2 separate regions of the Homo sapiens genome follow, and region 2 is linked to region 1. Evidence: fine-mapped expression QTL. A gene starts in region 1. The other region holds a variant in brackets. All regions are shown on one strand. Distances are between the middles of the regions. Region 1 holds the start of ACTR2 (actin related protein 2). Region 2 overlaps ACTR2 (actin related protein 2).

Region 1 (11,610 bases):
TAGGCCACCAAAATATTTATTCTACTTATACCAAAGCATTTTGCAAGATGAAACCAAATTTGGTTTTGGTTTGTTTCTGTTTCAAACACTCCTAAATTCAACATATAAAGTAGCATAAGCCCGATAAAGCAGGCCACAATCAACTACAAATGTCAATTACATAAATGCAAATGCAATTATTCTAGCACTATAAGCTTCTCTGTACGACTGGACCTTATTAAGCACTGTGCCAGCAACATAGCACGCACTGGAGAAACCTTCATTTTGTTGGTGATCTAACTCAATGCTGATGAAATCACCCTAGTCTGGTAACAAGACACGTAACACCAGGGGCCTGGGCCTAGCTCGTGAAGAGGACCTAAACCTAGAGTTTCACAGACCTCCAGATTTTCACCTATCTGGGCCACTTTAAGTGGCTTGATTTCAGAAGGAGGTTTGAATGGTTAAAATCCACATAAATTATTGGATCAAATGAGTTTTCCTCCTCTGGGCAACCCTACTGAGACACTGGTCAAGCTGGGAGATAGAAAATCAAGCGGGACCAACATTGGTCATGTGATCGTAAGTACAAACTTGTTTCCAGGCAAACTTGTCCAACCCATGGCCCACGGGCTGCATGAGGCCCAACACAAATTCACAAACTTTCTTAAAACATTATGAAATTTTTTTGGTGATTTTTTTAGTTCATCAGCTATTGTTAGTGTATTTCATGTGTGGCCCAAGACAATTCCTCTTCCAATGTGGCCCAGGGAAGCCAAAAGACTGGACACTCCTGTCCTAGAATATTTAATTTGGGTCTGCCAGAGAGGTTAAAAGAATCGTAACTTTTTAAAAAGCCTGTAATTTTATTTTTATTTTTACTAGATATGGGGTCTTGTTATACTAACCCAGGCTAGTCTCAAACTCTTGGCCTCAAGAAATCCTCTCACCTCGGCCTCCCAAAATGCTGGAAATACAGGCATGAGGAACCACACCCAGCCAGCCTACAATTTTAAAACCTAAGGCATGTAAGGAGCAAATGAAAACACCTTAGGATAACAACTATTTCCATAAATTTGCAAAATTACATCTGAATATCTTCTTTAATATTTAATTATAAAGGAATCATTATAACTTCAGGTATCTAAATAAAATCAAGATGATTATTCATGTCTACAAATGGTAAGAAACAGAATACACAATCTAAGCGGTTCCTAGTCCTCTACATACTCAGAACTATTACAGCATTCCTGTTATATGATTCATGTATTTTAACAGCACTGTTTCTTCATTTGAAACCAATCATGTCCATAGAAAATCTGCATAAAATTTTAAAATAACTAGAAGCATAAGAACAGATAAATTTTATTTGAATTAATTACACTCACTTTTTTCATTTATGACAGGAATTGATCACTTGTCTTAAGGAAAAGAATCTTAAAAACATGGATTAGACACAAGACTAATCAATAACATACTACAATCAGCTTTTTTTTTTTTTTGTGACAGTCTCACTCTGTCGCCCAGGCTGGAGTGCAGTGGCGTGATCTTGGCTCACTGCAACCTCTGCCTCCCAGGTACAAGTAATTCTCCTGCCTCAGCCTCCCAAGTAGCTGGGATTTCAGGCATCAGAAACCACACCCGGCTAATTTTTGTATTTTTAGTAGACACGGGGTTTCACCATGATGGCCATGCTGGTCTCAAACTCCTGACCTCAAGTGAACCTCCTACCTCGGCCTCCCAAAGTGCTGGGATTACAGGCATGAGCCACAACGCCCAGCCTAAAATCAGCCTTCTAATGTTAGCTAACTAATGGAATAGTAACATAACATTAGCTTCTGACAGCAGGGTGCAGTGGCTCAAGCCTGTAATCCTAGCACTTTAGGAGGCCGCAGTGGGCAGATCTTTTAACCCCAGGAGTTCAAGACCAGCCTGGGTAACATAGGGAGACCCAGTCTCTACAAAAATAAAAAAATTAACTGGGTGTGGTGGCACAAGCCTGTAGTCCCAGCTACTCGGGAGGCTGAAGCAGGAGAACCGCTTGAGCCCAGGAGGCAGAGGTTGCAGAGAGCCGAGATCACGCCATCGCTCTCCAGCCTGGGCAACAGAGCTAGATCCTGTGTCCAAAAAAAAAAAAAAAAAAAAAAAAATCAGCTTCGGTTAACATTCCCATTCTAATTTAATATTTAAAAACTCATATATACTACAAATACAGGGCTCATTACCTTGAACCCCTAAAAGAATTCATTAAAATATAACTGGCTTGACTTTCTAAAAAGAGTATCTGACACAATCACAAAACAAAAAATTTTAAATTCAATTTTTAAAGTTTTTTATTTATTTAGAGGCCAATTTGAAACTATAGTGGAAATCAGGCTAATACTTTTTTAAAAAGCACATTTAACTGAATTTTAGCCGCACATGTAACATGCGTTTATGGTTAATTTAGTTTAAATATAGTTTAATAATACTTGCTTTGTTCAAATAAAGAACATTTTTCCAATAATTCAGAAAGGTCATGAAGTCCTCTCCATCTTCCCTCACTCCCTTATCCTCTGTCTCATAGGTAACCATTATGAACATTTCTTATGTATCCCTCCAAAACTTTCATATGCGGATACAAGTTTGTGGACATACATCTTTAATAAGGAACACACACTTAAACTGAATCATTCTAAAACCTTTTTCAACTTAAAATCTTAGACGTTTCCATAGCAGTGGATCTGCCTTTTTAAAAATATTACATTCTTAAAAACCGTCACATTAATATGTTTTGTTTTTCTTTTTTTTTTTTTTTTTTTTTGAGACGGAGTCTTGCTCTGTCGCCCAGGCTGGAGTGGTGCGATCTCGGCTCACTGCAACCTCCGCCTACCGGGTTCAAGCGATTCTCCTGCCTCAGCCTACCGAGTAGCTGGGATTACAGACGCCCACCACCATGCCCGGCTAATTTTTGTATTTTTAGTAGAGACGGGGTTTCACTATGTTGGCCAGCCTGGTCTCAAACTCCTGACTTCAGGTGATCCGCCCGCCTAGACCTCCCAAAGTGCTGGGATTACAGGCATGAGCCACCGCGCCTGGCCTCAATGTACGTTAACACTCTTTTTACTCTAGTCCATTTTTAACACAGTTCAGATGAAGCTACCATAATTATTGCTTGTAAAATTGTGTAACAAATCTAATCAAGGGCAGTATTATGGCAGTAAATACCAGCTCTTTTCCCCCTCAACAATTCAGATTCCAAAGTGTTTTGTTCAAGTAAAATGAACTTTAATTCATACATCATATTTATGGGAGGGAGGGGAGAAAACTCACAAAATGTTGCAACATCAAAATGGTTAGAAATCACTATAGAAGTCATCCAGAATAAATAATATTTCCATCTTCTAATTTGCTGACTTTGCTACCCAAAATACATTTTTTTTTAATCTGGCAAGAGGGAGGTCTGAATGAAACAATTTTTTTTTTTTATAATTGAGACGGAGTTTCACTCTTGTCGCCCAGGCTGGAGTGCAGTGGCGCAATCTCGGCTCACTGCAACCTCCGCTTCCTGGCTTCAAGGGATTCTCCTGCCTCAGCCTCCCAAGTAGCTGGGATTACAGGCAAGCACCACCACGGCCGGCTAATTTTTGTATTTTTAGTAGAGACCGGGGTTTCACCACGTTGGCTGGGCTGGTCTCGAACTCCTAACCTCTGGTGATCTGCCCGCCTGGGCCTCCCAAAGTGCTGGGATTACAGAAACAATTTTCAAATAGTTTCTAAATCAGTGCTTTAGTCAGATTTTACAATTTTTGAATCTTAAAGGCTAACATTACCTGTATACTGAAACGAAGGGAAAAAAGGGGGCTGGGGGTGGGATAATCAACACTAATTAACTTCCCCTAAGGCTAGTGGAATTAACACTTGAGTCTTGCGGGATCCTAGGTCACCCAAAACCACTCAATGGAACATGCTGGTCTCCGTGGGCCTACTCCTGGGCCAAATACTAGTATGTAAAACAAAAAGTGAACGATGCGCTGCCGATCTGGACCCCTTCCCTCGAAAAAACTAATAAAAAGCCCAACAAACACAGCGAAAGGGCTGAGGTCCACACTCCATGACAGCACTTCCCTTTTTTTTTTTTTTTTTTTAAGTAAACCCGCTTCCTGCTTCTCGTTTGGTGTATCTTCAACTATACAGGAAGAGGAAGGCCTCTAGGTCTTTCTCCTTTTTACAAACCGGTGGCCCTGGGGAAAAGAGCCCTTCTCGGAACACACAAACCGAGCCTTTTACGCTTCCGTCCGCTTTAGCCCAATTGCCCCCGCATTAGCGCGGAGCAGGTCCCTGCCGGGCGGTCAGTAGGCTCCATGTCCAGTGCCGGTCTCGCCCGCCGCCCCCACCCGGAAGGGTGAGGGGGTGGCAGGCTAAATGGGTGGCAGGCTCAAGGGAGACCAGGGAACGGCCGGCTCGCTCCCACGCCCGCGGAGGTGGGAGGCACCGCCCCGCGCCCCTTCGCCCCGAGGGCCCGGAGGTGCAGCCCTGGGGGCCGAGGGCCCGTGCGCCAGCTGCTCGTCCCCGCCGGCGTCTGTGGCCGCCAAGGCCTCCTCGCGCGGCCCTTACCCCGGTGCCGTTGTCGCACACCACCACCTTCCTGCCCTGGCTGTCCATCGTCCGCCCAGGGAAGAGCCGCTGCAGCCGCACAACCTACAGCCACCGCCGCCCGGCCGTTTTCTCTTCTTCCTCTTGCGTCTTCCCGGCCCCTCCTTCGGCCCAACTTTTTTCCCCCGACCGGAAGCCGCCGCCGGGCTCCGCCCGTCATTTAGCTGAATGCCTGCACGAAAAGGGTGGGACGGGCAGGCAGCGCGACTGGCAGCGGTGAGCTCCAATAAAAGATGGAGGAGCGTCGAGGCCCCTCCCGCAGCTCCGCTTCCGGCTCGGCTGTCACGGTCGCTGCCCACCCGGGTTCTTCGCTGCTTCTAGTTCCGGGCGCTTTGCCGGGCGTTAATGGCGGCCAACATCGCCGGTGCTGCGGCTTTCTCCCTAAAGTGTCACAGGAGCTAAGGGCGCTGCTTAACGAACTGCAGAAGACGCAGGCAGGTGAAGGACACCGGTTCTGCTGCGGCAGTGGAATGTGGCGGAGAAGCTGGCGGGTAGGGCGGGGAGCAAGCCTGGAGGTCCTGGCGGACCCCACCATTCGACAGGGCTTGGTGTGTTATTGCTTCTAGGCCTTTTCAGCGGACAGAACTGGGATGGATACACACATGCTTATTTGAAATCATGCGTTTGTTCCATACTCCAATGTCAGCCCACCCCTTCTTTGCCCAAGTTGCTCTATGGTCAAGTGAGCGAGAGCAGGTGCCTGCATTTCCAGCCTCGTGGCTCACCGCCTCCTTCCAGTAGTCCCATGTTGCTTCACACCTCTTAAGTACATGTACTTCTGTGAACCCAGAGCCTTGGCTTTGAAATCAGACAACCCCAGTTTCAAACGTGGCGCTGCCACTCACGAGTTTTGTGATTTTGGCATACCCCTGTCTGCATGGGGATAATAACTTCTATCTCCATAGGTGTGGTGAGGATAAAAGTCTATGCATGGAGGAAATGTTCATTCAGTGGTAGCTATTTCTAATTCTGTTCTTCTGGACCTATGATTCTATCTACGATGCCTCATTTTTTTTCCTTTTTAATCAATTGGCAAACTTGTGCTCTGAGACCCAGCTTGTTACATCTCTGATGACAGCTGATATCCTCAGGATATTCCGTACTTCCTTTCTCCCTATTACTTTACTATGAATATATGAATAACATTGTGCTTATTGCATGCAACAAATATTTATTAGATGAATGACATTAAAATTCACCTTTAAAATGCCATCCTTTATGAGAGGTGAGAAATAGAACTTTTCCTTCGACATGGCTGTACATGTTCAACAACTAGAATAAAACAGTCATCATGAACCCTCAATCCAGTATTCTTTTTATAATATAGCTGCCTGTCAGTTTTCACTGTTCTTTTATTAGACCAGTGATTTTCAAACCTTTTTAAAGGCATACAGTGCTTTATTCAAATCTAATCTTATATGGAACCCTCAACACATAAATATTAAGATAAAAATAAAGCTGCCATTGTTGCAATTAGAAGTTTGAGAGGTTAGAATAGGTAGGAAGTCTCGGAGGAACATTTCTTCGTTTTACCTGCTTTAACAGTCAGAGAAGTACCTCAGCCAGCAGAAAAATTTATTTGTTCATAAATTCCTTGAGTATAGAGTCCGTATCTTATTTTTGTGGCCTCCAATGCTAGTGCTGTGCAGTTTTCTTGAAAGTGCATTTTATTGGTCTCAGCAAATTGAACTCAAGCATTTCTGTGTTCTTTTACTTTTCCTCTTTGTGGAATTAAGGGGATTGCTAATTTGTATTTTTAAAGAAAGAACATTATTCCGGGCGCGGTGGCTCACGCCTGTAATCCCAGCACTTGGGGAGGCCAAGGAGGGCAAATCACCTGAGATCAGGAGTTCAAGACAAGGCTGACCAACATGGCAAAACCCCGTCTCTACTAAAAATACAAAAATTAGCTGGGCGTGTTGGCACGCGCCTGTAATCCCAGCCACTCAGGAAGCTGAGGCAGGAGAATCGCTTGAACCCGGGAAGCAGAGGTTGCAGTGACAGAGATCGTGCCACTGCACTCCAGCCTGGTGAGAGCAAGACTCTGTCTCAAAAAAAAAAAAAAAAAATTGGCAAGTTTGGCCCTAAAATTTATATGAAATGAAAAGGAACCAGAATAAAAGGATTTCGAAACAGAAAAAGATGGAGAACTTCCACTACCTGAATTCAAAACTTATTATAAAGCTACAGTAATGAAGACTGTAATACTGGCATAGAGGCAGATATATCGATCAATGGAATCAAATAGTCCACAAATAAACCTTTACATTATGGTCAGTTGATTTTCAACAATGGTGCTAAAACAATCCATGGGGAAAGGGTAATCTTTTCAATGAATGATGTGGGAGGGAAAAAAAAGAACTTTGATTCTTACCTCACATCACACATAAAAATTGATTTAAGTGGATCATAGACCTAAATATAAAAGCTAAAACTATAAATTTCAGAAGAAAAAGAGGAAAATCTTTTGATATTAAGTTAAGCAAAGTTTGCTTAGATATGACGCTAAAATCGTGATCTATAAAAGAAAAAATTGATAGTTGACATAATAGAAATTTAAAGCTTTTAGTTCATGTATTGAAACAAAAAATCTAGACTGGGACAATGGCTCACATCTGTAATCCCAGCACTTTGGGAGACCAAGGTGGGTGGATCGCTTGAGCTCAGGAGTTCAAGACCAGCCTAGGCCAGATGGTGAAACCCCATCTCTACAAAAAATACAAAAATTAGCTGTGCATATAGTCCCAGCTACTTGGGAGGCAGAGGTGGGAAGATGGTTTGAGCCCAGGAGGCAGAATTTGCAGTGAGCTGAGATTGCGCTACTACGCTACAGCCTGGGTGACAGCCAGACCCTATCTAAAAAAAAAAAAAAAAAAAAAAGAAGAAGAAAACAAAAACAAAAAATCTTGGTCTGTCTTAGGCAACAAGCAATTAAAAAAAAAGTAGAAAATAAAGCAAAAGGGCCGGGCGCAGTGGCTCACGCCTGTAATTCCAGCACTTTGGGAGACTGAGGCGAGTGGATCACCTGAGGTCAGGAGTTTGAGACCAGCCTCGCCAACATGGTGAAACCCCATCTCTACTAAATACAAAAATTAGCTGGGCGTGGTGGCGGGCACCTGCAATCCCAGCTACTTGGGAGGCTGAGGCAGGAGAATTGCTTAAATCCAGGAGGCAAAGGTTGCAGTGAGCCAAAATCATGCCACTGCACTCCAGCCTGGGCAACAGAGCATAACTCCATCTCAAAAAAAAAAAAAAAAAAGAAAAAGAAAAAGAAAAGCCATGAACTAGAAGAAAATATTTGAATAGATATTTTACCAAAGAAGATTTATGAATGGCAAATAAGTACATAAAAAGATATTCATCATCATTAATCATTAGAGAAATGCACATTGAAAGCATAATAAGATAACACTTAATACCCACTAGAATGGCTATAATCAGAAAAATAGAAAACAAGTTTTGGCGGGGCTAGGTGGCTCACACCTGTAATCCCAACACTTTGGGAAGCCAAGGCGAGTGGCTCACTTCAGGTCAGGAGTTTGAGACCAGCCTGACCCAACATGGTGAAACCCCGTCTCTACTAAAAAATACAAAAATTAGCCGGGCGTGGTGGCAGGTGCCTGTAATCCCTGCTACTTGGGAGGCTCAGGCAGGAGAATCGCTTAAACCTGGGAGGCAGAGATTGCAGTGAGCGGAGATCGTGCCACTGCACTCCAGCCTGGGTGACAGCGAGACTCCGTCTCAAAAACAAACAAAACAAAATAAAACAAAAAAAAATGGAAAACAAGTTTGGCAAGAATGTGGAGAAACAAACACTCCTACATTCCTGGTGAGAATGTAAAATGGTACAGGCACTTTGGAAAGCAGTTTGACAGTTTTTTAAAAAATTAAGCATAAATTGCCATATAACCCAGCAATTTCACGCCTAGGTATATACCTAAAAGAAATGAAAACATATGTCCATGGACTCATACCTACATGTCCATTGCAGAATTACTCATAATAGGCAAAAAGTGGAAACTATTCAAATGTCTTATCAGTTTGTGAATGAGTAAACAATATGTAGTACAGCCATACAATAGAATATTTGGTGATAAAAATAAACCAATACATGCTGTAACATGGATGAAAGTAAAAAAACACTATAGCAGATAAAAAGACTGTGATTTCATAGGAAAATCACAAATATAGAAAAAGCAAGATTATAGATACAGAAAGCAGGTTAGTGATTGCTGGGGCTGAAACTGGAAGCCAGGTTTGGCTGCAGATGGGCATGGGACAACTTTACGGATTGATGGAATACTAAAACTAGATTTTGGTAATGGTTACACAACCATAAAAATTTACTAAAAATAAACTGCACACTTGTAATAGGTAAATTTTGAGATGTGTAAATTTCATGTTGTAACTCCAATAAGGCTTTAAAAAATTTAAGTTACCTGCCCAAATGTACCTATCATGTAGCAGAAGCAGGATTAGACACAGGTGTGCCTGTCCTCAAAGCCTGAGCTCTGTTTACCCAGAGTTTTGGAAACTCCAGATCTATCATGAAAACCTAAGTCATTCTTAACCCGAGTCATCCTACTCAGGAATGACTTTTTTATTATAATTTTATTGTTTTTTATTTTATTGTATTTAAAAGAAATAGAGATTGTGGCTGGGCACGGTGGCTCATGCCTGCAATGCCAGCACTTGGGGAGGCCAAGGCAGGTGGATCAGTGGAGGCCAGAAATTCAATACCAGTCTAGCCAACATGGTGAAACCCCATCTCTATTAAAAATACAAAAATTAGCTGATTGGCCTGGGAGGCAGAGGTTGTAGTGAGCTGAAATCACCCCACAGCACTCCAGCCTGGGTGACAGAGTGAGACCCTGTCTCAAAAAAAAAAAAAAAAAAAGGAAAGAAAAAGAAAGAGGGAGAGCAAGAAAGAAAGAGAGAGAGAGAAAGAAAGAAAAGAAAAAAAAAGGAAAGAGGGAGGGGGAGAGAGAGAGAAAGAGAGAGGGAGAGAGAGAGAGAGATTGGGTCTCGCTATGTTAACCAGGTTGGTCCCCAACTCCTGGCCTCAAGTGATCCTCATCTCATTGGGATCCTCCCTCCCAATCCCAACGTGTTAGGATTACAGGTGTAAGCCACTGCACCTGGCCTAGGAAGGACTTTTTGGGAGGGATTCTATCATCTCACTTGGATCTGGGAATACAGGTATGAGCCACCATGCCCAGCCTGAGAACAATACAATTATTCTTTTCTAGCTATTTTGAAATATATGATAAAATATTGTCAACTATAATTTCCCTATTGTATTTTCAAATACTAGAACTTCTATCTAACTGTATTTTTTTGACAATTAACTAATTTCTCTTTGTCTTCGCCCTCCCCAGTTTCCCTTCCCAGACTCTGATAACGACCATTCTATTCTCTATCTCCATGGTATCTACTATTTTACCTCCCATATGTAAGTGAGAATATGTAATATTTGTCTTTCTGTCCCTGGATCATTTCACTTAGCATAATGTCCTCCAGCTCCATCTATGTTGTTGCACATGACAGGATCTCATTCTTCTTTATGGCTGAATAGTACTCGATTGTGTATGTGTACTGCATTTTCTTTATCCATTCATCCATTGATGGACACTTAGGTTGATTCCCTATCTTGGCTATTGTGAATAGTGCCGCAGTAAACATGAGAGTGCAGATATCTCTCCAATATACTGATTCCTTTCTAGGGATGTATACCTCGCAGTGGGGATTGCTGGATCATATGGTAGTTCTACTGATAAACACACTTAAAACAATTTCAATACCTGCCAGGTGCGATGGCTCATGCCTGTAATCCCAGCACTTTGGGAGGCCAAGGCAGGTGGGTCACCTGAGGTCAGGAGTACGAGACCAGCCTGGTCAACATGGTGAAACTCTATCTCTGCTAAAAATACAAAAATTAGCTTGGTGTGGTGGCACGTGCCTGTAATCCTAGCTACTCCAGAGGCTGAGGCAGGAGAATCGCTTGAACCAGGAGACAGATGTTGTAGTGAGCTGAGATGGTGCCACTGCACTCCAGTCTGGGTGACAGAGTGAGACTCTGTCTCCAAAAAAAAAAGAGATAATAAAACAATTACAATGCCTTTATTATAACTAACAAAATTTACAGTAATTTCTTATTGGCTAATAGCCCATATCCAGTTTTTCCTAATTGTCTCAAAAATGTTCTAAACAATGTCCAAAAATTACATTTGTTTGATATGTCTATTTTATTTTATCTTATTTTATTTTATTTTTGAGATAGAGTCTTGCTCTGTCACCCAGGCTGGAGTGCAGTGGCGCTATCTCGGCTCACTACAATCTCCACCTCGCAGGTTCAAGCAATTCTGCTGCGTCAGCCTCCTCAATAGCTGAGAGTACAGGCGCATGCCACCACACTCAGCTAATTTCTGTAGTTTTAGTAGAAATGGGTTTTCACCACATTGGCCAGGCTCTTGACCTCAGGTGATCCACCCGCCTTGGCCTCCCAAAGTGCTGGGATTATAGGCATGAGCCACTGCTCCCAGCCGATATGTCTATTTTAGTTTACAAAATGGTGCGGCCACTTTGGAAAGCAGTCTTGCAGTTCCCCAAAAGGTTTAATATAGAGTTACCATATGACTCAGTAATTTTACTCCTAGGTATACACCCAAGATAAATGAAAAAAGTTTTTTTTAAATCATATTCTAAACAAGATTCACAAATTGCATTTGCTTGATATTTGTATTTTAGTTTATAACACTTTCTTCTCTCTCTCTCTGTCTCTTCCTGAGACAGGGTCTCTCTCTGTTGCTTAGGCAGGAGTGCAGTGGCATGATCATAACTCACTGTAACGTTGAACTAGACTCAAGCAATCCTCCCGCCTCAGCCTCCTGAATACTAGGACTACCGGCATGTACCACCATACCCAGCTAATCTTTAAAAATTATTTTGGAGAGATGGTGTCTTGCTGTGTTGCCCAGGCTGGTCTTAACTCCTGGC
Region 2 (11,610 bases), 44 kb before region 1:
AATCAGCTAGTGGTGTGAGCTGCCATTTGGTTTAGGTTGACAGTTAGCAAATCATGCCTTCTGAGTTTAAGGTACTCTTTAGTATTCTATTTTATCCTAACAGTTCAGGGAACTTGGGAGCAGCAAAGGTTTTTGCGATCTGGGCCAAAGTCACAAGTTTTCTAGTTTCAATGGTGGGGATGGGGGTGGAAGAACCATAAATCCAATCCTCTTTAGACTCTTAAAACATGGAATTTCATTACATAAATCATTCTCTTCACGTATTTGTTCAAAAGTGCAACAAAACAAAGCTTTCATTTAGGATATTCAAGGAAGCCTGTCTTACTGTTATTAAAGCACCTGAGGGAGGATTTGTGTTGGCTCACACCACAAATCTTAGCTTCTTTTGAATGGTATGAACAGAAAAAAAATGTTTAAGGCATAAAAGAGTTGCTATGAAATGGAAATGATGAAGATCATTTTCATGCAACACTAAGACTGGTCGGATTAACCAAAAGAAATCAACATAAAGTTGTCATACCATTTAAAAAATAGTAGCTTAAAGTCAGAAGATAGTTTTCCTCACACCACCTATACCTTGTGTTTCAAAAACACAAATGGTGAACACTGGCACTCCCCAAATCCACATTATGAACTGCATTCTGTATTAGGGGACCATGTCAGTTTTGATATCATAAGAAACATAATTATAGCAGTCATTAATGTGTGGACTGTTGGTCACCATAAACAATTCAATACTTCCACTTTTGAACAAGTTGCATCCAAAAGTTCATTTGTCAGTTGCATAGAACTTGAAATACATACATGCTCTCTAAAAGTAAAGCTACATCTGGTAGGTTGGTTTCTTGGCCTGATTATAAATCACTTTCATGTATCAAGCAGCTAAACTTGTAGCATTAGCTGTACTAGCTTGAGTTCAGGAAGCTGGAACACTGCAAGTCGGAAGCGAGGAGAAAGGAATGTTGAAATGAGCAGTTTGCTTTGGTTATTTTACCACTTCCAGCACTCAACTCTCATCTACCAAGGTGAGCTTGCCCTAAAAAGTGAGCTTGCTCTAAAAACTGAATTTCCTCAGGAACCTACCAATTTTCTCCAATGCACTCCTTAGGCCAAAGTTACAGACCTTCCTTTCACTTACATCACAAAGAGCTGCTAATCTCCCCTAGGCGTCAGTGTGAGTCTCTGGATTTCCTTTTAATACAAATGGATGTGTAAATGACTGATGGTGCTTTAACCATCCCAGAACTGGCCTTTTTAATGAAAAGGTGTTTATCATCCATTTGAACTGAAGATCCATTTGGGGGAGGTGGAGCAGAGGTCAGCACACTGGCAAAAGATGGTCTCTAAGTGGTTCCGGCTTCCCAGGGCTGCTTCCTGTGTCACTTCTGAACCCATCTGCTAAAAGCCCTAGTTTTCCCCAGGAAGAGGAGGAAAGAAGGGCATTGCAGGTGTGGGCCCAGGAGAGTGGTTCATACTTTGAAGCCTGACTGTCCTCTTAGCCCCTAAAACAGGAGTATGAGAGTTGTGGGGGAAGAGTTGGAAAACAAGCAAACCCTCAGGCTCCATTCGGTGGTCCAGAGTGGGGCTCAAGGAAGCCTGCTTTTTTTTTTTTTTTTTTTTTTTTAAGATGGAGTCTCGCTCTGTCACCCAGGCTGGAGTGCAGTGGCTGATCCCAGCTCACTGTAACCTCCACCTCCTGGGTTCAAGCCATTCTCCTGCCTCAGCCTCCTGAGTAGGAATAGTTGGAATTACAGGCGACCGCCACCATGCCCGGTTTGTACTTTTAGTAGAGACAGGGTTTTGTCGTGTTGATCAGGCTGGTCTCGAACTCCTGACCTCAGGTGATCCCCCACTGCCTTGGCCTCCCAAAGTGCTGGGATTACAGGCGTGAGCCACCGCGCCCCGCCTAAGAGCCTGCATTTTTAACAAAAGGAACATGTGATTCTGACCCCATACTGAAAAAGACATTTGAAGGACAAGTAATTTGTTTTAAAAATACAGATAATCATACTTTAGCTACATCACTTCCTGTGGGATGTTTTCATTTTAGAGACTCCTTTAGAATTCCAAGTTGTGTAAGCAGGGAACTTAGAGGTTGAATATTATCTGCTTGAATTCCACCTAAACTACTAAGTAAAAGCAAAACAAAGAGGACAGCCTCCTTAATTGATTCTTTGAATCAAGGTCCTTTAAATTGTCACCATAGTTTAGGTTCCACTCCTTCCTAATAGCTCTTAAATAAAAATTAATTAATGCCAGAAGCTTTCAAATGTAGATCTAAGTTAGCAGGGAAAAAAAAAACACATCTGGAGGTAAATTGTAGGTTTCCAATAAAGGGGTCAAATGTGTATTATCAATTTAACAACTGAGCCTCATTTAGGCCCAAATTTCTTACTCTTCAAACACTAAGTTGTCACAAAATATAAAAATATAAGAATATATACATGTAAACATAAGAAAATATGAAAATATAAGAATTAACAACTCAGGAAACCCTTAGATTTTTATATATTATTATTATTGAGATGGAGTCTCGCTCTGTTGCCCAGGCTGGAGTGCAGTGGCATGATGTTGGCTCACTGCAGCCTCTGTCTCCTGGGTTTAAGCAATTCTCCTGCCTCAGCCTCCTGAGTAGCTGGGATTACAGGTATGCGCCACCACACCTAATTTTTTGTATTTTTAGTGGAGACAGGTTTTGCTATGTTGGCCAGGCTGGTCTCAAACTCCTGACCTCAAGTGATCCGCCTGCCTCGACCTCCCAAATTGTTGGGATTACACAATGCCCAGCAAGATTTGGTTTTCTAAAGTAAAATAGATCGCTTAATTTTCTTGTGCACAGACACCTCGAAAAAAATCTCAACCCCTACAGAACATCAAGGCACTCACATAAACATACTCATTTAAAATGATCCAATTAATATTGTGGCAGACTTTTAGAATTTCCCTAATTTCTTAAAACCTCCTTTGATATTAATGCATTTGCATTCACATTTTTATGATTACATTTTCTGTTTTTTGAGATGGAGTTTCACTCTTGTTGCCCAGGCTGCAGTGCAATGGCACAATTTCGGCTCACCACAACCTCTGCCTCCCGGGTTCAAGCGATTCTCCTGCCTCAGCTTCCCAAGTAGCTGGGATTACGGACTTGTGCCACCACACCTGGCTAATCTTGTATTTTTTAATAGAGACGGGGTTTCTGCATGTCGGTCAGGCTGGTCTCGAACTCCGACCTCAGGTTACTGGCCCCCCTCAGCCTCCCAAAGTGGTGAGATTACAGGCCTGAGCCACCGTGCCCGGTCGTAATTACACTTTTATGCACAAAAAGTATAATTTTAAAAATCCTTATCCTTGAGAGTTGAGGCCCTTTTTCAAACCCATATTTAAGGAAGAACAAATATTTTACTCACTGGAGTTTTCTTTTTACCGATTTTTTAAAGCATTCATCAGGCAAAAGCTCCACTTGCTGTGAATGGCAAAGGGTACAGTTCTTAAAGGCTACCCTGGGCATAAGAATCACTCTGTAATACCTTTGTGATTGCTTTCTGCACTTGCCAAACCCAAACCTTTCAACTGGTCCATGAAAATCTACTCAACATTCTCTAATTCTTCTATTCCTACGTCAAATGTTTCATGGAAAATTATATGCCAAGTCTTTTCCAGTCTTTCCTTTTTTCCTCTGGTGGGTGGGAGGAGTTGAGGGGGTAGATATGAAAGAGACAGGAACTCCATTCTGCCAAAAGGAAGAGATAAATCATTTGAATTCCCCCTACTCAGATATTTTACATCTGCAGATAACGCAAACTGAGACACTTATAATAGGCAACAAGACTTTTTGTCACTGCCAGTCTAGATAATTTAAACAAAAGTAACTATGGTTCAATAGCTTCTTTCTTCCTAATTTCAGATGTTAAACAATACAAAGAAAGATGCTTTAGAATGTTTTTAAAATGTTATATTAATGTGAACATCACTTGAAATTTTTGTAATAGCTGCCTATTTTCACCTCCTCTAAATCAAGTTTATTTCTATTCTATGACTAAAAGTTACTTTCAATATAATGGTTAAAGTCACTAATTTTAGCCTTTTAGTTATTCACACATGCAAACATGCTTTCCCAGGTACGTCCCCTTACCTCCTCCACTTACCTCTGATGTAGCATTTTTCAATCTTCAAAGAGGTCAGAGATTTTTGAGCCAGAGGAAAAAAGTATCCCAGTATTGTGTGTAGTTGGCCAATTAGTCCAAGGTTAGAGAGCATGTTAAATATTGAGCTTAGCCGGCCGCGGTGGCTCACGCCTGTAATCCTAGCACTTTGGGAGGCTGAGGCGGGTGGATCATCTGAGGTCGGGAGTTCGAGACCAGCCTGACCAACATGGAGAAACCCTCTCTACTAAAAATACAAAATTAGCCGGGCGTGGTGGCGCATGCCTGTAATCCCAGTTACTTGGGAGGCTGAGGCAGGAGAATCGCTTGAACCCGGGAGGTGGAGGCTGCGGTGAGCCAAGATCGCTCCATTGCACTCCAGCTGGGCAACAAGAGTGAAACTCCGTCTCAAAAGAAAGAAAAAATCGAGTTTAGATTAATCCTCGAGTTTCTGGTTCACTTTAGTTGGCTACCCTCTTTGATGGTTCTAAAATTAATACAGTTAATAAACTCACTCAATTGTATAATGGTCAAAGTTTGTGGGTGGAGGAAAAAAATGAAGTGCACTGAGAGACATTCATTCCATCAAAGGCACTATGCAGTGCCTGGTATTTTCTTCCTCCATTACATATGGAGATAGCTGTTATCATATTCTTCTTCCGCAACTCAGAAGAAACTAGATAAAACACCAGAGACAACCCTTACGTTCGCTGTCTGGGACTCCGGCCCTGAAGCGGGCAATGAGGTTTGCACATACAAGTCCACGAAGAAGGAAAGGCAAAAATACTCTCTCTACTCTCCAGCCCTCATCCTCAAGGCTAGTATAAAACAAGAAAAGGTCAGTTAAATGTATTTTCATCCTTCTTTTATTTGTTAAAAATAATATGCCTAAAAGTCTGCAGATGAGCTAATATGTCCTTGAAAGGGGGCATGTTACATACAGGTCTCTTTAGCATTTCTAATTCTGTGAAAGCCACCTTAAATCTTTTGGGAGACAAAACAGTTTGTTGGAAGAAAACAGCCTCTGATGTAGCTATAAATCGCTATTCTATTTTCTTATGTATTTATAAAATCATACCAGAAATAATGAGTTGTTTTGTCAATAATAGAACACTGACATGAACTTGACCTAACAACTAGCATAAACTGTCAATTCATCTTGCATTAACAAGAAAATGAAACAAGAAATAACTATTAGAAAGAAATGACAAAATTCAAATTGACTTTGAAAAAATCTGATTTTATTTTCTCAATCAAAATGAAGTATTTCATGTTAATTTAGACTGTTTAGCTTTCCACTGATATCTCAAGATACTTTCCAGATATTAACAGTACTCAGAACTGTGTAAAAGTTAACCACCAAAACCATGTTTTAAAGAAAAAAGTTTAAATGTAAGACTAATGTCTTGGGGACTTTACTAAATGTATTTCTAAAAAAACCCTTCTCAAATGTAGAAGTATTGGCAATTCTAATTTAAAAATTTTAAATTTTTAATTATTGGAAATTTAAGTAGCAATAGTTTCAAGAGCTAAGAATCAGATTGCTTTTTAAAACAGAATTTTTTTTTTTTCCTGAGGGACTCATACTTGACAACTCCAGTTAAACATAATACTCCACCCAAATCCCAAATTTAAATGCATTATGTCACCCTGGAATAGTAAAATTATAAAATGGTATTTCTAAATTATAATATATATACATAATGCACCATTTTAACTGTCACATTTACCAGCAGAATTATGAAATCAAAAACAAATTCTACATTCAAGGGACAAACGATAAATGCTCTTTCATTGTTTTAAGAGTCCATTCCATTCTTTGTTGTTTTCTACTCCCATATTTTAAAATTATGACCAAAGGAGCCTGAAGGCCAAGTCAATCCCATTTCCCTGAACCCAACTGCCAGTAGGTACGGGCCCTACATACGCGTCCTTTAACAAGCCCCGTTCTCAAAAGGCTGGGGGTATTTAT[A/G]TAAGAACTTATTCCAAAGTGACTCTAAGATCCATGTTCCCAAGATCTAGTACGGGCTATTCAGGGTTCTGAGGCATGTCCAGCATGCAGGCAAACTTATCTGTTCAAATTGAGGTAAAACAGACAAAAAACACTTAATATTAACAGAAGCTACATAATTAAAACTAACCTTCTGCTGCTTATTTAAGCTAATGATGTATTCTTACCAAACAGAGACCCTCAAGTCAATCATTTCTTTTGATTTTAGTTACCACCCCCAAATTAAGCCTCTTCTTTCAAAGCTATTATTAGTTAAAAAAAAGTTTTAAAATGAAGAAAAATATTTTTTCCAGAACTTGTATTTTGTAATTAGTGTGATGCAATTTCTTTTTATTTTTCAAACTTAGAAATAACTCATGTATGGTACTATTTGGTATTTTTTTCAGATACCAAGGAATACCGACAGGATTCATAAATAGGATTTTCTGACACTGGCAGGAAAGTCTGCTAACGTTTACAAAATACCAAAGACTCTTCTTTCAAGCTTCAAAGATGGCTGAGAATTAACAGTTATGATTAGTTTTTCAGTACAAATAAAAAAATTAAATCTTGATTTTTTTGGCCAACATTTTAAACAGTCAAATTTTACTGTATTTCCAGGTTTCAAATCAAAACAAACAAAACAACTAATGAAAATTACCCAATTGGCAACAAGTCCTGTATTCCAATGTTATTTTTAAACCACCAATTATAACCTACTGCCAGTAATTATTTGTAAGTACCTGCTTGTTTTATTAAGCACTGGTCAGTTATATAAAAGAATAATTTGCAAGAATGATACTTGGCAATGGGTTACCTTAATGCTTCTGGAATAAACAGAAGCATTAACAAAACACCAGATCTTAAGCTCTTTTAAATCTGTAATTCGAATTACCCAAAGGATTTTTAAATGTTACTTTTCCATTGAAGGACTGTAGGGAGTCTAATCCCAGCTAACATGGTTGATTTTAAAAAACAAATAAATCCCTAAGCCACATAGTAATGGAATACTACACTTGCTTTTTATATCATATGGAAACAGCTCCAGGCAGAGCACAAGTAGAAGAAAACCTGCCAAATCAAAGTACTGTAAATAAAGTTCCTCTACGTACTCCAGTTGACAAAACCTCAAAAATAAAAATCAGAAGACCACCCATTGTTACCCTCCCCCCCGCAACAAAACCCACCCAAAACACTTTAGTTCTGAACCTAACATTTCCCTAAGAAGTTCACAGGAGAAGCTTTAAGGTACTTAAAGCTGCAGCAGTACAGTTGAAAGCGCCACATTACAGAGGAAATGCCCTAAAGGGTTCAGCAGCTGCCCACCCATCCCGAACCACCCCCCATCCCAGTAATATGTAAAAGCTCCTGTTAAAGTTTTTTTTGTTTTATGCTAATAAAGGCATACCACCTAGTGTGCTAAAGACTACGACTAGCAGCATTAGAGCAGTAAAGTGAAAATAGGAAGCCTATAGGAATGATCTAAATGCCTACTTAGAAGAAACAAAGCAGCAGACAGAATCCTTAGCCCTCTAGTCTATGTAGGGAAGCAGTTGAATTAAACTCAGATTTACCCACATTAACAAAAATTTAACAAAGCTTCCCCAAGACACCAGAATAAAACTTGACCTTTCCAGTCAAAGGGCAGAGAGAGGCCTCTTCCATGTCCTGGAGTTGAATGAGTTCAAAGATTGGCAATAAAGGAAAAAAGAAAGCATTACGGGTATGACGGGAACAAGCTTTGGAGTTTATCGAACAGTCACACCAAGTTTCTCTAGCACACGGACACCCTTTTCTTGGTACTCTTGTCGGGTCATCCAAAAGTTGTCTTTGTCTTTCATGATATCCGCTAGAACTGCACCACCCAGGAATACCATGTGCTTTCTGCGGGGTGGGTCTTCAATGCGGATCTTAAATTTCTAAAGGAGAAAGAAAGGATAATGAAATGGTACATGTGCACAGTGCTTTCTGCTTTATGAAAATGGCTTTTTAAATATATGCTCTCCCTCAAACTTGCAACAGTCCTGTAATATAAGTAGAACGTAATATTTGGTACCTGAGGTACAGAAACATTTAGTAATTTGCCCAAAGCTCATGTTTAGGAGACCACACATCCATCCCAGCATGCTTGGAACAGTCCTGATTTACACGTGGTGTCCCATCATTATTAATACCACCCTTTCCATTCTTGAGTGTCCTAATTTGATCAGTAAATTACATGACTTAACACCCTACTGAGAGACCAAACATCCAAGACATAATTAGAGCAAATTTCCCATCCAATGGCAGATGACCACTTGGGAAAGTCACTTTGCTGTCAAGCAAAGTCTGGATAAGAGGACTTGCATGGCTGGGTGTGGTGGCTCAAGTGTAATCCCAGCACTTTGGGAGGCCAAGGCGGGCGGATCACGAGGTCAGGAGATCGAGACCATCCTGGCTAACACAGTGAAACCCCGTCTCTACTAAAAATACAAAAAAATTAGCCGGGCATGGTAGTGGGTGCCTGTAGTCCCAGCTACTCGGGAGGCTGAGGCAGGAGAATGACGTAAACCTGGGAGGTGGAGCTTGCAGTGAGCCCAGAGACTCAATCTCAAAAAAAAAAAAAAAAAAAAAAAAAAAAGAGGACTTGCATGACTTCTTCAAGGTCTCATACTGTTATGATTCTAGTCCAGGGCAATAGAGTAAAACTGAAGTTCTTTTCTTTTAAGCAAAGCTTACTTTCTATTGTCTCAAAATCAAATGAAATGTTCTTAAAATAAACAAGGCCAAATATGGTCAAAACAAATCATCAGGATGTTATGAGAAAATGAACACAGTAACCAAAATTAAAGGCAATTGGGAAAAGTTTTATACTCTGTAGCTACTATTAAGTGTCTAGGAAGGACACATCCTTATCTTTATGGTTGGTCAACACCTGAAAGAGAAACCTTAAAATGACATAGCAAGTTTTTCATTTACAGTATCACGATCTGCAAAAAAGACCCAATGTAACTATGTCATTCTAAATCATTTGTATATTTATGTCACATAAATGAACTGTAAGGGTTCTAACAATCCAAGATAAAGAAAAACATCAGTTTATTTACCAATTCTGAGACTGTTTTAATTGTTCCTTTTACTTTCTTGCTCTTACATAGGGGTCAGCAAACTTTTTTTGTGAAGGGCCAGATACTTGAGGCTTTGTAGGCGTGACAAGTACCCAACCCCACATGTAGCTAGAAGGTGCCCACAGACAATATGTGACAACAGGTAACATTATGTAAACAAATGGGCTTGGCTGTGTTCCAATAAAACTTAAAAAAAACAAACAAACCAGTTTTGGCATAAGGGCTATAGATGACCACCTCTACTCTAAGGGAAACTTAGCTAGCCCCTGAAGACACTGCTTCTGTAAATACCTCAACTGCTTTACTGTTTCTCTCTCACACACTACCTTAACCCTGGAGGTTTGGTAATATGAGTTATTGCTCTTCATTGCTGCTTCTATCTCGCTCATCCCTAAAACTCCATAGCCCCACTGAAACTCATTCTATCAGATCATTCCATCTACCACTCCCTCCTTGCTGAACTCATCTACAGATTCCTACAGACAAATTGCACCTGCTGTCAAGCAGCTGAACAAGATAGGAAAGAAACAAAACATCTTGCTATAATGTATCACTAACCTCAACTGAGCCCTTCCTGCTGCATGGCAATCCTATTACATTTCTCTATTCTCGCTTCCATTCTCCAAAACAACCATTTCAACCTCCTCCTCTATTCTAAAACTCTACCATCCCTCCCCTCCTCTCAGTGCCTCCTAACTGGTCTCTCTATGCCCACCTTTGTTCCCTCTTCCCCCAAGAGTCTATTCACCACACCAGACTTAATGATCCTTTAAAAATATACATCAGATCCTATCATTTCTCTGCTTAAACCGCCCCCACACCCAAGACTTTCCATTTCACCAGGAGTCAAGCCAAACCCTTTACCATGGCTGAACAAGACCTGCCCTCCTGCTACCCTTCTGACCTCATATCCCACCTGCCCCCCTCCCTTGCTCACTCTGCTCCAGCCACACTGGCACACTCCCACCAACCTGGGGCTTTTGCATTTTTCCTGCCTGGAAGATTCTTCCCCCAGACAGTCACAAGGCTCACTCCTCTCACGCTCAACTTAGGTCTCTGATCAAAAGTCACTTCATCCAAAAGGCCTTTCCTGATCACAGTTTATGAAGGAGCACACTACCTCCCCAACCACTAACATTTTCCAGCTCTTCACCTTACTTTTCTTCATATCACTTATTACCACTAATACATTATTTAGACTAAAAGCAGGGATTCTGTTTTCATTGTTTTGTTTGTCCCCGGCACCTAGACCTATGTCTGGCACCCAGGAGTTCAAGAAATGTTTGCTGAATAAATGATCACCTGAGATTAATTATAAATTATATGTAAAACTCAATAAAATCAGAAAAATAAGTGAAGTACTTAGACAGTATGGCTCCTTTCCAGTCTGTTAATCTGTTTAATGTATGTGAGCCCATACTCAATTTAATTTCAACAATGAGTCATATATGAAAGATGTAACATACAGTACTCTGTAATACATAATCTCATTATCTAAAACAGTTGATCAAAGTCAGTGAGACAAAGCTCAGAGATTAACTCAGGATTAGATAACTCTTGGTTAAGTATACAGCACATACTGTATACTTCACATAGTCCAGAGTCTGGTGGAAAAAACACAAAAACCTATGCCAAAGAAACATCAACTATTTCTAGTTTAAAAATTTCTTTCTACTGTACATACCAACAACAACCAATTAAAGTCTGTTTCAAGAGTTATGACAGTCACCGGAATGCAAAAAATTTTGAGACATGATGTTTTTCAATCTGACTGAGAAGACAACATATGCAACAAATAAAGTCAGAAATATGAGATAGCCCAAGAGAAGTGCTGAAGGCTGATTGCATATCCAAAAAATAAGTTTAAAAAAAGAACAAAACTCAAGTGGGGCATTTATTTCCCTATAGTACAGCAGGTTCTTCTCATGCATATACAGGTGCCTCAGAGTCCGTGCTGGTTGTTACAGATGAACCAGAACTTTTGGCCCTGACCTCACTGCCTCCATCCACCAACTCTATAGAGGTGACCAGAGCTTATCTTGAACTATTTCCTTCTTGCTATCATTTCCAGGATGCACTTGACTGCAGTAGGAATTTGTTTTGGAAGACGTCTTGCTCCCTCTGGTGGTTGTCAAGATTCACAAACTACTGTATAGCCTTTTAAAAGAATGTTAGTAATAGTTGATTTACTAATACTTACAGAAAGTTTTTCCACATCACCCTTCAAAACTCGTTCTAAGTAAAGCTGTTTAAGTTCTCGTTCCAACCGTGATGGCAGGCCAGGATACATAGTAGACCCTCCAGAAAGCACAATGTGTTTGTAGAATTCAGATCTAGAAAGGCACAATGGTTATTCATTTGGAGTTTTAGG

The links.
Region 2: its variant is fine-mapped to the expression of ACTR2 in whole blood (TOPMed, PIP above 0.99).

Annotation. Positions count from the first base shown.
Region 1 is chr2:65,220,923-65,232,532 of GRCh38, reverse strand. It overlaps ACTR2 (actin related protein 2), which reads right to left and starts at 4,702. Exons shown (of 9, transcript NM_005722.4): 1 at 4,576-4,702. The coding sequence starts at 4,623. LOC124907779 (a long non-coding RNA gene) reads left to right here and starts at 4,934. Exons shown (of 2, transcript XR_007086461.1): 1 at 4,934-5,052. RefSeq lists enhancers at 3,771-3,860, 3,933-4,821, 4,822-5,711 and a silencer at 4,361-4,550.
Region 2 is chr2:65,265,005-65,276,614 of GRCh38, reverse strand. ACTR2 (actin related protein 2) reads right to left here. Exons shown (of 9, transcript NM_005722.4): 8 at 11,440-11,572; 9 at 5,362-8,051. The coding sequence ends at 7,881. Among named protein-coding and RNA genes, the nearest start is that of ACTR2, 43 kb to the right of the region's middle. RefSeq lists an enhancer at 855-1,522. The variant A/G (reference allele first, on the strand shown) is at 6,115.